Linked DNA regions of Homo sapiens: region 2 is linked to region 1. A link means that fine-mapping ties the variant in region 1 to the expression of a gene that starts in the linked region. Tissue or cell type: whole blood. Region 1 holds a variant in brackets; the other region holds the start of a gene. All regions are shown on one strand. Distances are between the middles of the regions.

Region 1 (8,188 bases):
GGACATATTCTTATGAAATTTCACCTAACTGCACATGCACGCACACACACACACACCACACACACATTTACACACACACTCCCACCCACTGAGCCTCTGAGCGTGGCAGAGGATAAGAGAAGAGAAAAAAAAAAGGCGAGGAACTGGTGAGGCGGAATGGAAAGGAGGAGGGAAGTCAGCCCAGTGGTTACACCCCTGTGCAGAGGCGCGCCCTCCACTGGCCCCCTTGCCCCACTTTGTGCCTTTGGTTTGAAACACTGGAGGTGGCCCAGGGCCGTTTTCCTCAAAGGACTGAGAATCTTGATTTGCCAAGTGCTTGGGGCCTCCGCCCAAGGTGTTTGGGGGCTGCGTGGTGAGCCGAGGCAAAGCCAGGGTACCCCGATCGTCTTCCGGGCGCATCCACCATGCGGCACCGCCCCAGCCACGGCGGCCGCGCGTGGAGACCCGGGGGCTTAACAAAGGGCTCCGCGGGGGCACGGGGGGGCGCGGCCACGTGACAGGCCCGAGCGCGACGTCGCTGTCCAGCCGCGGGGAGGGGCGGCCAGCCCGGGGGGCCGTGGGGCTTCTTGACATAGAACGTCCGGGCCTCGGGCTGGCCGCGCCGGGCCGCGCTCCGCCGGGATGAGAAGTACTTGTCTGGCTCCGCGCTGGAGAAGCCGCACCTCTCATCTCTCCGGCTCTTACTTGAAAAAGCACTTGGAAGAAACTGTGTGTGCGCTGGGAGGGCCGCGGGGTGGGCCGGGGCCGGCTGCGAGGCTGAGGGGGGCCGGCTGGTGGGTGGATGGGGAGGAGGTTGAAGAAACAGCCCCTTTCTGAGTGACAGGACCCCTTTTCAAAGGGCAAACAGAAAAAAAAAAGAAGAAGAAGAAGAAGAAGCTCCTAATATGAATAGGAGAATTTTCAATGTTTCGCAGTTACTCCACCTCCCCCCTTTTAAAGAGGGATATTTTTTCCTTTCCTTTTTTCCTATTTTTCTTTCTTTCCTTTCTGTCCTTACCCTCCCTTCCTTTCCTTCCTTCCCTCCCTCCCTCCCTCCCTCCGTTCCTTCCTTCCTTCCTTCTTTCCTTCCTTCCTTCCCTTTTCTTTCTTTCTCTCATTAGATTGGAATTGCGTGCACAAACGTGTTTTTATGTGTTTTCAGGAGAAAGAATGATTCATTAACTTTAAAAAATCTTCATGGGTTTGTCAGAATTATTGAAACATGTTATGGTGTTTTCGAGGACCCACTGACCAGAGTGGAAAGGCAACAGACGAGTCACGCTTTCAGACAGGGGGTTTTAAAGATGCTGGGTTTGTAGGGGCGAAAAAAGGGAATATCTTACGAAGTTCTCCCTCATTCCAATAACAAAACCTGTCACATCTTCACTTCTTACTAGAAAAGATAGTGTCCTCATTTCCTCATGTGAACAGCTCTAAAGTGATTACTGAATGTCTCTGTGAGAAATCAGGATGGGAGAGGAAAGCTCATCACATTCAGAGATTTTTTTTTAAGCCTGCCTTCATGTAATTTAACCTTAGAAACACTTTTATTATCCTCATTCTCAACCCCAGCTTTTTTTTTTTTAATTGGAGGGCCATGCCATATAGAGGAGAAAACCTTCTTTTAAAAAAGATTTAAACCCACAGTACCACTTGTTTGTTGTTGTTGTTGTTATCATGATTATGATGGTTATTATGTCGTCCCCTCCTTTTTGCACTTGATCTGATGAGAGAACTTTTTTTAAGAGTGTGAAATGAAGGACACAAAGACATATATCAATGAAAAGAAGAAAGTGGCCCTTTTAATGAGAACTAAAGAAAACCCAAATGTAGATGAAGTGTACCGTAAAAGCTGCTTCAAAGTCCATCTTAATTCCCTTGGGCTCAGTCATCACGAACGCGTGATAATTGGGAGTTCTGCACGGAGGTAAGGCCGCCATAGGGTGGGGAGTCCCGCAGATGCACCTCCCTGCCCTGTAATCCCAAATACATTTCAACCAAGAACTTGGAGATATTACAGAACCCAGATTTGGCTACTCCACCTTCAAACGCTACCTGCCCATTAAAGACATTTTGTTTTCTTCCAGAGCAACTGTGCTCACTAGGGGAGCATCATCCTCTGTCCCACCCCACCTCACCCCCCAGCAGGCTGATATAGGCTGGACAATATTGTAAGGTTTTGATCATTATTTTGTGATCAACTCTGTTTAATTTTCTATTTATTTTCGGACCTGAGCCTTTCTGGATCACAAAAGTCCCCACAAGTAACACAGCAATAAATCTGAACAAAAATAAGACAGATTTCCTTATCGATGTGTAATAAAGTTAAAGGACATTGTTTTGTCAGACAAGCGCTAAGTAGAAAATAAATCTCAGGGTCTGGGGAAACAAAACGGAGCGCTGCTGGCATGTGTGTAAATTTACTTTTAAAAGCAATAAATCAATGTTAAATTAAACAGCTGGGTACCCTGTCTAGGAGAAGGTTCCGTGTTTAAGAAGACCTTGATGGGAGAAATGTACTATTTAACAAGACACACACACACACACACACACACACACACACACACAAAGTTAAATTTTTATTGGCATCCGGAGGCAAGACTGCCCTGGGAACTTTTCTTCTGAACTTCAGAGAGGGAGAGGGAAATAAGAGAGAGCATGAATTGTGTCTACTGTCCATCCTCAGATCTTTACACATATTTTCAGGCATAAGGAGAAAAGGAGGTTTTGTAGAAATGTATTAGATGTGTTCTAAATTGTGGGTTAAACTATGAAGTCTCTCTTTATTGGCTTAGGTTTGTTGGGTGGGTTGTGATTTTTCTGAGATTTTTTTTTCCTGTAAGTTCTATGACCTGTGAGTGTGTTAAGCATACTCTTATCTCATGCTTCCTTTATTCTTAATGTGGTTGTTTTGCACAGCAAATAGCACAGTAGAAAAATCAAGAGGACTGTTATTTCATATCTATTGTGCTTGTGTTCATTAAGTAGCAAACCTGAGATTGGAGTAGCATTTGATATTCAACAGGAATATTTTAATATTTCATTTTCTAATTTTTTTGTTTTTGTTTTTGTTGTTATTTTACAAAACTTCACTTCACTGGGAAAAAAATTGTGTGTGGGACATGGAGATGAGGAGAGAACAATAGAAAAGCCTAGCTCTGGCTCTGTATTCTAAGAACAATGTGAATCAATGAGCTACTATAGAGGCAATATTCAATAGCAGGAAATTAAGAGTAGTTTAAGACTAGCATGTATATACACTGGATTATTTTCCAGCCTTAAAATGAAATTCCAGAAAGACTCTTTAGAAAGCACACATATTATTGAGATGAACTCTCTCAGTCTTTTGAATTCAGATGGACTGGTTTAAAAGAAAAATATGCGGTACCTGCCTCTACAGAAACCAGCAGATTATTCTTTACTTTCTTCACATTGAAATCCCAGAAGCTTTATTTTGTAGTTACATTGTTAGCCCAGTTCCAAAGAATATTCATATAATTAGGTAACATTATTCAAACTTTAAAATTATTTTTAAAAAGTGTTTCAACCCCACCCCCACCCCCTTCAAGCTACACACTAACAGGGTAGTTTTCTAGCTTTCTAGCTACCTTTGACTTTTCTTCAGCCAAAGAAAATATCAAAGACCCAGTTGCCTGGAGAAGAATAAAGTTACAGCATTTATATTTAGGAGGCAGCATTCCATTTCCATGACCATCAGTGGCTTGTTAAGTAAATATGTGTCTTATGCCACTCGGAGAGAGCTCAGATCGCCTGTCAGGAGGCGTCTGGGCAGCCTTGTAAACTCAGAGTGACTTCTCATATCGTGCTATGTTTTCCCAGCGATGCGCTTTCCTCTGCGCTGAAGCCCTGGGAATCATTTCAGCCCAAGGTGAGCCTTTCAGGCACTGCTCTTTGTCCCCATTTGGATAAGAAGGTGCAAAACTAGTTAGACACTAGGCTGATTTTGGGGAGGTGGTAGGAGGGGATGGAGAAGCGGCCTGTTCTAATTAAAGACAATAAGCAATCCTGCGAGGAGCTGTCCTTTAGCCTTGGCTGGAGG[C/T]AGAAACGGTCTGTCTCACCTCAGTTGTTAGGTTTATTTGAGCTGGTCGGTGAGGCGAAGAGCAGAAACTTGCAGGTAGCTCTGGGCTCAGGTGAGACTGGGTGGATGGTTAAATCACAGCAAGTGATCTCGAAGTCCCCCTTTACCTCCCCATCCCCTGTCCTTCTGTGCTCTGTGCTTGACTCAGGCATACTTTGATTCTAACTTTGCTTGCTAGATGGCGCTCGGTGTCTCAGGACTTTCTGTTTCAGAATTAAAGCGGCTTTTTAGCACCGTTGTTCTGAACTATTTGTGGGCATTTGATCAGTACAGTGCTGGTAATGTTATTATTGCCCTTGTTTTCGTCACACTTTTTCTCTTTTTGATTAAGGTATCGTCCAGGTGGGAGCTGCCCATCTTAATCCATATAATAATGAAATTCAGGGAAACTCTGCACCTAAATTTAGGGCACATGTGTGGTTCAATTACCTGTTCTGGTGCACTTAAAAAGGCACCTTAGTAACTTTCCTCCAAGAATGTGATTGAGGTTTTCAAGAGGACAACTCAGCAGGTCCAGATGGTGATTTACAATCGTCGAGGTTTCCCACTAGAGTCCACCACCCTCTCCCACCACTACTCCCCATTCTCACTCGAAGATGAATCAGGCTGATGTGGGGAACTTATTACTTTCATTTGTCATTATGAGATAGCATTAATTGATTGAAAAAGTATTATGATTTCTTTATAGCCCAAGTACTAAAAATTTATGTCTACAAAGAGATATATTTTAATATTAGTAATGAAAGTCACTACACAGCTTGTTTCACAAGAAGAATGATTTGTGGATTCTAATGTATATTTATTTCAATCACTAAATGATTCTTCTCAGATATTCAAAACACTTTTGGAGGGATTCCTTTGTGTTGAAGCACGAAGAGAGAAAATCAGTAGTTCTAAATTTCTGGTGGAAAAAATTAAGATAAGCCAAAAAGACCTGAATATTGTTTTGTCGAATGAAGATGTCATTTTCACAGCACCCACTGCTCTCATACCATTGTCTGTTTTTTAAAGAAAGGATTGCTGGTGAGGAAGGCAACGGTTGCAAATTAAAAATATCTCTTTATAACTTTAAACACTTTGACATGGGAGAGTTTAACTTGTTACTTGCTTTTAGGATTTGGAAACTAATTTGTATAGAAATGTTCTACCTTTGGGGGAAATTAACAACACACAGAGCTCGGTGGTTTGGAAACCTTTTGTCAAACCTTGGCTGCTTTGGTGAAGAACCCCGCAAAGACTCTCTCTAGGTGTTAGGCTGAAACTAGCAGGCGCTGAAAACCTAAAGCAGAAAATTTACAACTTGATCAGCCCCAGCCACACACCAAAAAACCTGCTACTGGTGCAAACATATGTTACAGATTAAGTTAAGCAAATGGCTCTCATTTTTTCAGGGTTGAAAGTTGATCATGAAAATTCAAATTTGAGTGCATTGTGCTTCTAATAGATCACTAGATCCTCAGATGCTTACAAATCCTCCCCAACCATTTACTCAAGAAATTTCATATATTTTATCACCTTCTTGAGATCCTAGCTTAGAATCTCATGCAAATTGACTCTAGTCGGGTATTATTTTCCAGGAACACATGTAGTTTTAAAAGTTGGCTAAGTTGAAAACTGGCTGTATTCTTCCTTCTAATGTTAAACTGCTAAATAGCTGAAGTGTAACTCAGTTGTTCTAATGCTTTCTCTGTTTCCTCGTATACCTACTAACTTTTAAAAGCAGAAATTAAACTGCAGAATTTATTTTAAAGTTTCATTTGCTGGAGAAGTAAGTGATTTTTTTCACAGCATGAGGCAAAATAAAGGAGTGTTACCAAAGCCTTTAATTATGTCAGGAAAGACTGAAATCATGGTATTTCTTTTAATGGGGATAACTATCTTTTGCAACCTCTCTGTGGTCATCCAGCCACCTCCCAATTAAATTATTTGAAGACCAGCGTGGCTACTAAAATGCCTGGTAAAGAAGTTTAGAATTAACTCCCCACTCTCCAAGGTAACTCCCTTGCAAGTTGCAGAGGATGGAGCCAGGCATCCGACACCTGGGGTCCCTTCTTCCGTAATCGCGGGAGTTTGAAATCATCCCCCTTTACCTCTCCACATTCGAATGATCATCCTGCAGATTTTAACCGATATTGTCATGTTGAAGTTTGGTGGTTATTGTTTACATCTCTCCTTTCCCCAAGGGGTCTTGGTAAACGTTTAAGAGATTATTGATTTCCAAGAAACCAAATAAAGAAGGCTGTTCTTTTATAACATATGAAATACACACTTTTCTTTAACTAAATAGGCAGTGTATACTTGACATTGACAAATGGGCAAGAGACAAGGAAACTTATTTTAAAAGACTTTGAAGGGGAAAAAAATGGATACAACAGCAGCAATCCTATGGAATAGTAGGGTTTTAATTGAAACAAACGCTGGATAATAAGGAAAAAAATAGTAATCTATGCTGTAAAATGGTTTAGAGTTTTCACCGAACACACACAGATGGCGAACAAACATCACTGAAGATGCTCCTCTCAGGGGGACCTGATCAGTATCCTCAATGTTCTGATTTATTATAAAGAAAATGAGTTTCCCATGCTTCTTTTCTTCACAGTTTTCTCTGGCAAAAGTGGTTCTGAAATTTCTACTCAGGTCTGGGAGTTTCTGACGTACTTACAATAATCCAGAAAAGTCATTCTGAAACTGGATTAGGAGCATACTTTTTTAAAAAAAGTAAGAAATTCTTGATTAATGAAATGCAGATCTTAACTACCCCTTTCCTCCAAGTCATAAAGGAAATCCCTTGTGAAAGAAAGCGATTCCCAAAACCCAGACTGAGAGAGTAAACCTTAGGCACCCAGAAGTTCAATAAGCGCTGTCCCTTCCACCCCAAATCTCCACAACTCCCCTAGCCCCGACAGAGGAAAACCTCACGTCCTTCTCTGCACCTGATTCCCTTTGCTTGCTCCTGAACTCCGGAAGGCTAGAACGAATTTATCCAAAGATGGAAGAAAGCTCAGCACCTGGAAGCTCCCCCAAAGGGTACTGGCCAAAGATATGCAAACATTATGTAGATATTTCAGTTGCGGGTTTAGATAGTGGGAGATGGATCCTAGTCTAGAATATTCGAGTCTTCAAGTCACTATTATTCAACAGGTCTTCGCTATGCTGCACACTTCAGATGCCAAACTGCATTAGCTAACGTGAGTTGTCCCCCGTTTTCGTAGGAGGGTCGTGTTGCTAGTTTAGTTTCCGGCATGGCCGAGTTTCTCTAGTAGCATGGATTTACCTTAGTATTTGGGCAAAATGACTCTTGAGATGGAAAAAATGACCAAACTACGGGAAAAAAATAATCTTTGAGGAGAATTCAGCAGTGACTTTGCAGACTAAGAAAAGACAAAAAGTTTGTGCAAGCAGTGCTATGAGAAAGCAGTGTGTTGATGATGGCTGTTTCGAGAAAACAAACTAAATTGTTAACCCGTGAAGGAGTTAATAAAATATTTGTATGTCTTATGGGACATAAAAATAAAGTGTTTTGAAGCTAAACTTTTGCTTTAGTTTACTGAAAATTTTCCTTGCAATACTATGGCAAATAGATAATAATTTATCCTGAAATGTATTGTAGTTCATGTTACTATACAGAAGCAGTTTTCAAATAAATTTATTGAGGGCATTTTATAGGCAAGAAACCCATTAACTTAAGATATTAGTGTTCTCTCCCTTTTCACTTATTCCTGACTCTTTCTAGCAAAGTTTGGATCAAGTTGGTTTGAAATTATTTTAGTACAATTGATATTTAATAGAAATTTGGTTTTGACCGTTTCACCTACTCTAAACCTAGTATTTTCGTCCCCAACAACGGTTCAAAAGAGTGGGTGACCAGAATGGGGTCCTGGTGGGAGGGAAGAGATTTCACTCAAAACCCAGCAAGTGAGAAGAGTTTCAATACAGCAAGGTGCAATTTGAAATTTACAAAAAACTAATCTTGTCTTAGGAGTGGCAACTTAAGTGTTGCTAGGGAGACCACGCAATGAAAAAGATACCACAGGGAAGTGATCTTCCTTTATTGTACTTTGCTTAACGCGACGGCAAAAAGAAGAGAGCCAAACAGGGAGAGGTGCCGAA
Region 2 (8,188 bases), 500 kb after region 1:
TTTTCTGTTTCTTCATCATTTTTTGGCTCTTCTGGTACCTGCTCTTCTCAGCAAGAACCAGAACACGTCTTTTCTGTTTCTTCATCCTGTTTGGCTCTTCTGGTCCCCGCTCTTCTCAGCTACAAAACAAACGACATCTACTACACAGGCACAGTCAGCCATTTAATATACTCCTTTTCTTCTAATTAAAAAGAAAAAAAAATCAAAACAGGCCAGGATAGTCTTTGGCTTTCTGAACTGTTTTCATGGCAATTTGAACCAAAAGGTTCATTTATTATTATAGAAGATGGTGTATTTTTTTTTTTAATTTCTAAGTTTGGAGTTACTACAGATACCTGGTCAACAGACAAGTTGAGAGTTTTTACAATTACAGGATTAAAGAGTTAAAATGCAATAAAAGTCATGGTGGCTGCCTTCTTAACCCTTAAAAACTCCACCAAATAAATCTCCAAAAATTTTTATTAAATCATATCTTAAAATAAATTCATAGAACTCCAAAAATATATACCAGTGGTCAAAAAGGACATGAAAAGATGCTTAACATCACCAATCATTAGGGAAGTGCAAATTAAAACCACAGAGAGATACTACTTTACACCCATCAGGATCGCTATTATCAAAAAAACAAAAAATGTGTTTGGCAAGGATGTGGAGAAATGGTGAGGATGTGGCAAAATGTTGGTGAGGATGTGGAGAAATTGGACTCCTTTGCATTGCTGGTGGGAATGTAAAATGAGGTGGCTGCTGTGGAAAAGAGTGTGTCAATTCCTCGAAAAAAAGTATACATATAGATATATATACATATAAAATTTCCATGTGATCTAGCAATTTCCCTTCTGGAGAGATATCGAAAAGAAATGAAAGCAGAGAGTTGAACAGATATTTGCACTCTCATGTTCATAGCAGCATTATTCACAATAACCAAAGGATGGAAACAACCCAAGCATCCATGGATGAATGAATGGATAAACAAAATGTATTAACAGCATATGCACACAATGGATAATTGTATTTCACCTTAAAAAGAACATTCTGACACACGCTACAACATGGACGAACGTTGGAGACATTATACTAAGTGAAATAAGCCAGTCACAAAAGGTCAAATAGTGCATGATTCCACTTATATGAGGTACCTAGAGTAGTCAAATTCATAGAGGCAGAAAGTAAATTGGCAGTTGTCAGGGGCTGAAGGTAACAGAAAACGAGGTGTGAGTGTTTAATAGGTATGAAGTTTCAGTTGGGGATGATGAAAAACTTCTGAGTGAAAAATAAAGTTGGCATAGTACAGGGACATACTCCATACTTAGTTACCAATGACTACTGTGCAAACCCAATCTGACTCTAAAAACAGAGACAGTACAAGTTGTATACAACTGAGTAAATAGTGCTTACTTTTGTTAGAGCTCAATGAAGAGCACAGAAACATCTCTACATATCTACAGACACCAGATTCTCCTCAGAGGTTTGTCTGGGAAAGCTGAAAAAAATAAACTGTAAATAAATAAAATCCCTCATGCCACCAAATCAAGGAATAAATATTCATTCTTGAGATTGTTAAGTACTGCTACCTCCATGCCTACATCCTTGCTATTCCAAATATATCAAACACGCTCCTGTCTCAGTGCCTTTGTACTAGGCCAACTCATTCCTCCATACTTGCGGAGCTCACTCCCTCATTTCATTCAGATCTCCACTCAAGTGTTCCCTTATCAGAGAGGGTGAGCTTACCACCCTATCTAAAATAGCATCCTCTATCATTCTCTCTCCCCTTAATTTATTTTTCTCTATACCTCTTTTTTTTTTTTTTTTTTTTTCTGGAGACGGAGTCTCGATCTGTCACCCAGGCTGGAGTGCAGTGGCATGATGTCGGCTCACTGCAACCTCCGCCTTCCCGGTTCAAGCAATTCTCCTGCCTCAGCCTCCAGAGTAGCTGGGAATACAGGCGCACGCCACCACACCCAGCTAATTTTTTTGTATTTTAGTAGAGACGGGGTTCACCGTGTTGCCCAGGCTGGTCTCAAACTCCAGGGATCAGGCAATCCGTCCGCCTCGGCCTCCCAAAATGCTAGGATTACAGGCGTGAGCCACCGCGCCCTGCCTTTCTCTATACCTCTTAATCACTACTTGTTATATATTTACTTGTTAATTATACGTCTCCATCCACTAGAATGTAAGTTCCAGGAGCAAAAGGACTTTCTATTTTGTTTACTGCTGTCTTCCCATCACCTGAACACTATCCGGCACACTGAAGGTTGCCAGTAAATACTTGCTAAATGGATAAACAAGTGGATGCTCATGGTTTCATAGATAATATTTCCCTCTTGGCCTTGGTACTATTTATTCTACCATATGGAGCAGCCATAGCCTGAAAGCATCCAGAGCATCCTTAACTTTTCAGCGTAGGATTCACTGGTTAAGTGGAAGTAAGGCCTAGTTGAAAATTCTGAAAGAAGCCTGGTACCAGCACTGTCACTGAGGCCTTAACGAAGCAGATCCAAAAATACTCTCTTACTCAGTTTCTACATTCGCTAAATGTATACAGTGTAACCGTCCCTCGCATTGTAGGATAAAGAATACACCTTATCAATGAGATATTTGTTATGCAGTATATGGCATGCGTTAATGCAAACGATGTCATGTACTACATTAAAAAATCGCACTGATATTTTGATAAATATACAATGCACTTGTAGATAAAAACCAGAGAATTTTTCCCTCTACAGCTTTTTTGAGGATTTGGGAGAAATGGACAAATGCAACAACATTGCATGTCATTAAATACAGTATATCCAAACACAACGAGTTTCTTGGCCCAACAGATATAGACCCTGGAGCACTATAAGAATATGTTAAACACCTGGATGAGGGAAAGAGAAGACTGCTTCCAAAACATACTTACTTTATTTCAAAGTCAAAAGTATTCAACACTTAATTCATACTGCATCCCAGAGAAACGTCCCACCCGCGCCCATGCATGTTACAAGTTTTGAGAGCATTTTATAACTGCACTTTAATCCCTCTGCAGTGAATGACTTCTGGTAAAGCGCTGGCAGTTAATAATACTTTTTGTAGAAAAAAAAATTAATACAACAACCACAATACCTCCACTCGCAAGAAAGCGGAGGAGGGCCCATTACTCTGTCTCCAGGGACTCCCAGAATCCCGTACGCCCCGACATAAGGAAAGTCATCCAGGGAACACACACGTCGCTCCCGCCTAGAGAGTGGAAATGGAACATGGGACCTGCCCATCAGCGGAGGCCCAGACACAAGTCAGAGGTGTCCGCAGGGAATGCAGCGTGGTTCCAGACAGCCTCGGTCCCCAGGGCCAGCGACCACCGCCTGAGACCGACCCAGGCCAGCCCCCTCCTGATTTCGACCCGGGCCTGCCCCCGGAGCTCACATCCCCGCAAACGGCAGTCCTACCTGAGCTCTGCCCCCAGCCACAGGGCTGAGGGGGCAGGCGGGAGGAGGCGTGGCCTTCCAGTTCGCCAGTCGAACTCCCTCGTGCGGTTGTTATGACTTTCCCTCTCGGGATCCGCGCCCCGACCAAGTTCGAGTTGCACTTCCGGGGTCTTCAGGAGATTGATACGTCATTACGCACTTGACGGCAGCGGCGGCGACAACCCGGAAACGGGCGGGGCGCGGGCCCTGGGTAGGTTCCTGTGGTATTAGGTGGACTGGAGAAAGAGGCCCGCGTGAATTAAGTGTAGTTCTCTTATGCACTGGCGGACTCTGGTCGCCCTTCCTTGTGAAGGCTGCCTGGGTAGCCGTAGAGGACGAGGCCACTCTAAAGCCTCGTTTTCCCAGCGGAATTTTAACTATTCTAAGGATGTCCTTACAGCCAGTTCCCCACTCCGCTACTCAGAGTGTGTCAGACTTTACCCTGTCCATTCAACTCCAGAAAAACCGGGAGGTCTAGATTCGGAAGATTAAATTTACCTTTGAATTAGGACATGTAAAATAGGAAGTTAATATTAGCATCCTAATGACAAAAGTTTTCTCGTTATCATACTTGACTCAAATGGGAATCTTACGGATATTAATGTTTTTTCCAGAAACAGGTTTGAAAGGTATTTCAAGGATAAATCTGGGGAAAGGGATGGAAGCAACTGATTTTTAATTTTTAGATAGTACTCTCAGAGCATTTATTTAGTCCAAAACTGTTAATTTAATGAATTAGGCTAAACTAGACGCTGGGGTAACAAAGCTGAGTTAGATACCCTCTCCTCTGAGGCAGCTAAAGAGAAGGAAAGTCTGGTGGCTGACAAGTAAACCAACAGTTATGTTCTTCAGAGAGGAGATCTCAGACTCTCTAAGGTATACTTCACTTCCACACTGTTTGTACTTTGCAAATGTACCCTGCCCCCTAAAATGTAAACTCACTGATGGTAGTGACATAATCTTGTCTTTTTAATGTATCCTCAACCATACAACAGTGCCTGTCCACAAAGTAGACAATAAATACTTATTGAATGACTGAATGATCACAGTGGTAAATAATAGATTGGGGAAATCTAGAAAAGTGTATAGGACAAGAAGAAAGTGGTGTAAGTAAGTGGCGGGAGATAAGGAGCAGTAAAAGGTGAGAGAATCCACTGGAGTTAGCCAGAACTGAGTACCTGAATGAATCTCGGGCATTGCAAGACTGTTAGGGCTTCATTTCCGGAAAGAACTCAAATGGTTTGTAGAGTGACACTTTATACTGAAGAGGAAGGCAACAGCCAGATTCTGAAAAGCTTTCTATGTCATGCTGAGTAATTTGATTTTCTGCTGCAGACAATTGGGGAAGCTGAAGGATTGTTGAACAGAGGAGGGAAACATTTTTATTTTGGTGGACTTTTGCAACAGTGACAGATTATATTAAAAAGATAAGGCTCCCAAAAATGTATAATCCCAGTTTAACCATGAGAAAAACATCAGACAAAATACCTGACCAGTACTACTCCAAACAGTTAAAGTCATGAAAAACAAGGAAAGTCTGAGAAACTGTCTGAGCCAAGAGGAGCCTAAAGAGACCAACTTTAATGTTGGATCCTGAAATAGAAATAGAACGTAAGTGAGAAAACTAGTGAAAATTGAATAAAAAAGTAACATTCCATTAAGAGAATATACCAATGTTTACATAAAATATGGAGATTGGTCAAAAGATGAGTGACATGACCTTTCAATATTTCCAGGATAGAGGCCCACTCAAGGGTTAGGGGAATGTACTTTGTTCAGTAGTAAACTATTGAACAAACATATGGGTGCTTCAGCCTGCAATTCCAGCTGGACTTACATGGGAATGAATGAGCCTTCAGATTGTTCCTGTCATTGAGTCAGCTGGGGTCCAAAATTTCATAAAGCAGAGACGAGCCATCCCCACTGTGCCCAGTTCTGAATTCCTGACCCACAGAAACAATTAGAGATAATGAAAATGATTCTTGTTACTTTAAGCCAGTAAATTTTGGAGTGATTTGTTTTTCAGCAAAAGAAACTAATAGCTGTATGACAACAGCCAAAGAGTAAATATCCTTTCAAGTCCAATCCTGCCTAAGATGTCAAAATCAAGAATGAAGAGGTTATGTGCTGAAACAGAGTGAGTCCTTTTCTCTCCTTACTCTACCCTAAATGGTAAACTCCTGCCTCAGCTGACCACAAAAATATCTTCTGCAAATCTGTGAGGAGAAAGGAGGGAAAGCAACAAAAATTGTATGTGGGCTTAGATGTTTTGTTAGAATTACAACAGCCCATGTGTAGCTTAGCAGAAACCATTACAATGATGACTACACAATATAGTACAAAAATGTCCCCTCATTTTAACCATAGTCATCTAAACTGTACAAGTTAGTTTATAATTTTAATTTATACATCTCTAGGGAAGCCAGAAACTTCAGTTTCTCTCCCCACCTCTCTTCTCTTGCACTTCAAAATCCTACTAAGATAAGGAAAAAGGAAAGGAGATTTGTTCCCTCCTGGCTAACAGCTGGTCCATCTTTGATCACTAGGATGATCAAAGAAATGTCCCTATACCATATTTTGCGTATCCTCCTCCTATTCCAGACCACTTCCTTGGGCATCTATCTTTTTATCAATCTACTCCCACCCTTCACATTAAATGATTTCAGTGACATACAGCAGACAGACACCTCCAAAAATACTAACAAGGCTACATGTTGTTCATTTAAGTTAAAAATAAAATTTAAACCTACTTATCATGACTAGGACTCAGTGCCAACATTTTGGCAGCTCAAGAAAATCCATTAAGGAAAATATTCTTAATTAGATGCTAAGGGCAAAGCTCTGTCCAAACTAACCAACTGTATTAGAATGAGGTCTGGATTCTGACTTAAATTTGGAGAATCAAGTAACATTCCTGCCCTTGCTCAAGCCCAAGCAGGAATGTGCTGTGGTTTGAATGTGTTCTCTAAAAATTCATGCATTGGAAACATAATTGCCATTGTAATAATATTAAGAAGTGAAGCTTTAAAGAGGTGATTTAGGTGATAGGGACTGTGCCCTCATAAAAGGATGAATGCCATTATTGTGGGAGTGGGTTAGTTATCATGGGAGTGAGCTCCTGATAAAAGGATAAATTTGGTCCCCATTTTCTCTCTGTCTTGTGCACTCTCACTACTCTGTCTCACCCTCTCTCCCCCTGTGATGCTTTCTGCCACAAGATGACCTTCACAAGATGCAGCCTCTGGATCTTGGACTTCCCCAGCCTCCAGAACTGTAAGCCAAATGAATCTCTTTGTTTATAAATTACCCAGTGTGTGGTATTCTTACAGCAGCAGAAAATGGACTAAGACAGTATGTGTGAAGTGTGGATAGTAATTACAACAAGTTCTGCCTTCTAGATTCAGTTTATATTTAAAGCCCAAAAAGTAGGATCATATAACCAAATAATTTCTAATGACCCCTCCAACAAAATGATTATTACTTGAAATCAACCCCCTATCACTTGTACTTTCCATCTAGATGCTGGGGACACAAAACTGAGTTAGACCCAAGAACACCCTTTTCATTATGCCTGGAATTTTTTTAAAATGAGAAAAGATAACATATCAGTGTTCAAAACATACTTTAAGAGAATTTCGAACAAAAAAACATAAAATAGCCTCTAGTTTGTGATGGAGACAATTTGTAGGTTGATATATTTACCTAGAGTTAGACAACCTGTGAGGTTTGAGGGCACAGTCTCTAAGGTGTCCCTGATTTCTGACACCAACTGCAAGTTTGGAGGGTTCCCAGAAACACCCTCAGGTTTGAAATTTTGCTAGAAGGTCTCACAGAACTCACTGAAAGCTGTTATCTTTACAGTTACCATTTATTACAAGGAAAGAATACAGACTAACATCAGCCAAGGGAAGAAACACGTAAGGCAGAGTCCAAAAGGGTACCAAACACAGCGCTTTTGCTATACTCTTCCATTATTTGCTGTACTTTCCCAGTGGAGTCAAGACATGTTACCCTCCCAAAATCCATCCATGACAATATGCAATATAGAATTGCCAGTAACCCTTTTCCTGTTTGCCCTAAGAATACTCACGAGTGGCACTTGCAGCTGCAGCATTTACCTTGAGATTACTTTGCTGATATTGTTTGATGTGTCCCCCCCCCAAATCTCATGTTGAATTCCCATGTGTTGTGGGAAGGACCCATGGGAGGTAATTGAATCATGGGGGCAGGTCTTTCCCTGCTGTTCTTGTAATAGTGAATAAGTCTCACAAGATCAGATAGTTTTAAAATGGAAGTTTCCCTGCACAAGTTCTCTTCTCTTGTCTGCTGCCATGTGAGATGTACCTTTCAACTTCTGCCATGATTGTGAGGCCTCCCCAGCCATGTGGAATTGTAAGCCCATTAAACCTCTTTCTTTTGTAAATTGCCCAGTCTTGAGTATGTTGGATCTGTTTGGAGGGCTCTGAAGAAGACAGGAAAATGTGGGAAAGTTTGGAACTCCCTAGAGACTTGTTGAATGGCTTTGACCAAAATGCTGATAATGATATAAACAATGAAACCCAGGCTGAGGTGATCTCAGATGGAGATGAGGAACTTGTTGGGAACTGGAGCAAAGGTGACTCTTGTTATGTTTTAGCAAAGAAACTGGTAGCGTTTTGCCCCTGCCCTAGAGATTTGTCGAACTTTGAATTTGAGAGACATGATTTAGGGTATCTGGCAGAAGAAATTTCTAAGCAGCAAAG

Evidence for each region. PIP is the estimated chance that this variant, and not a neighbour inherited with it, causes the effect.
Region 2: ARB2A starts here. The variant in region 1 is fine-mapped to the expression of ARB2A in whole blood (TOPMed, PIP 0.96).

The regions. Positions count from the first base shown.
Region 1 is chr5:93,603,742-93,611,929 of GRCh38, forward strand. No RefSeq gene overlaps it. Among named protein-coding and RNA genes, the nearest start is that of MIR2277, 13 kb to the right of the region's middle. RefSeq lists a silencer at 4,082-4,376. The variant C/T (reference allele first, on the strand shown) is at 4,040.
Region 2 is chr5:94,108,083-94,116,270 of GRCh38, forward strand. It overlaps ARB2A (ARB2 cotranscriptional regulator A), which reads right to left and starts at 3,581. Exons shown (of 11, transcript NM_032042.6): 1 at 3,429-3,581. LOC105379087 (a long non-coding RNA gene) reads left to right here and starts at 3,620. Exons shown (of 7, transcript XR_001742441.2): 1 at 3,620-3,657; 2 at 4,243-4,322; 3 at 5,473-5,583; 4 at 6,665-6,719.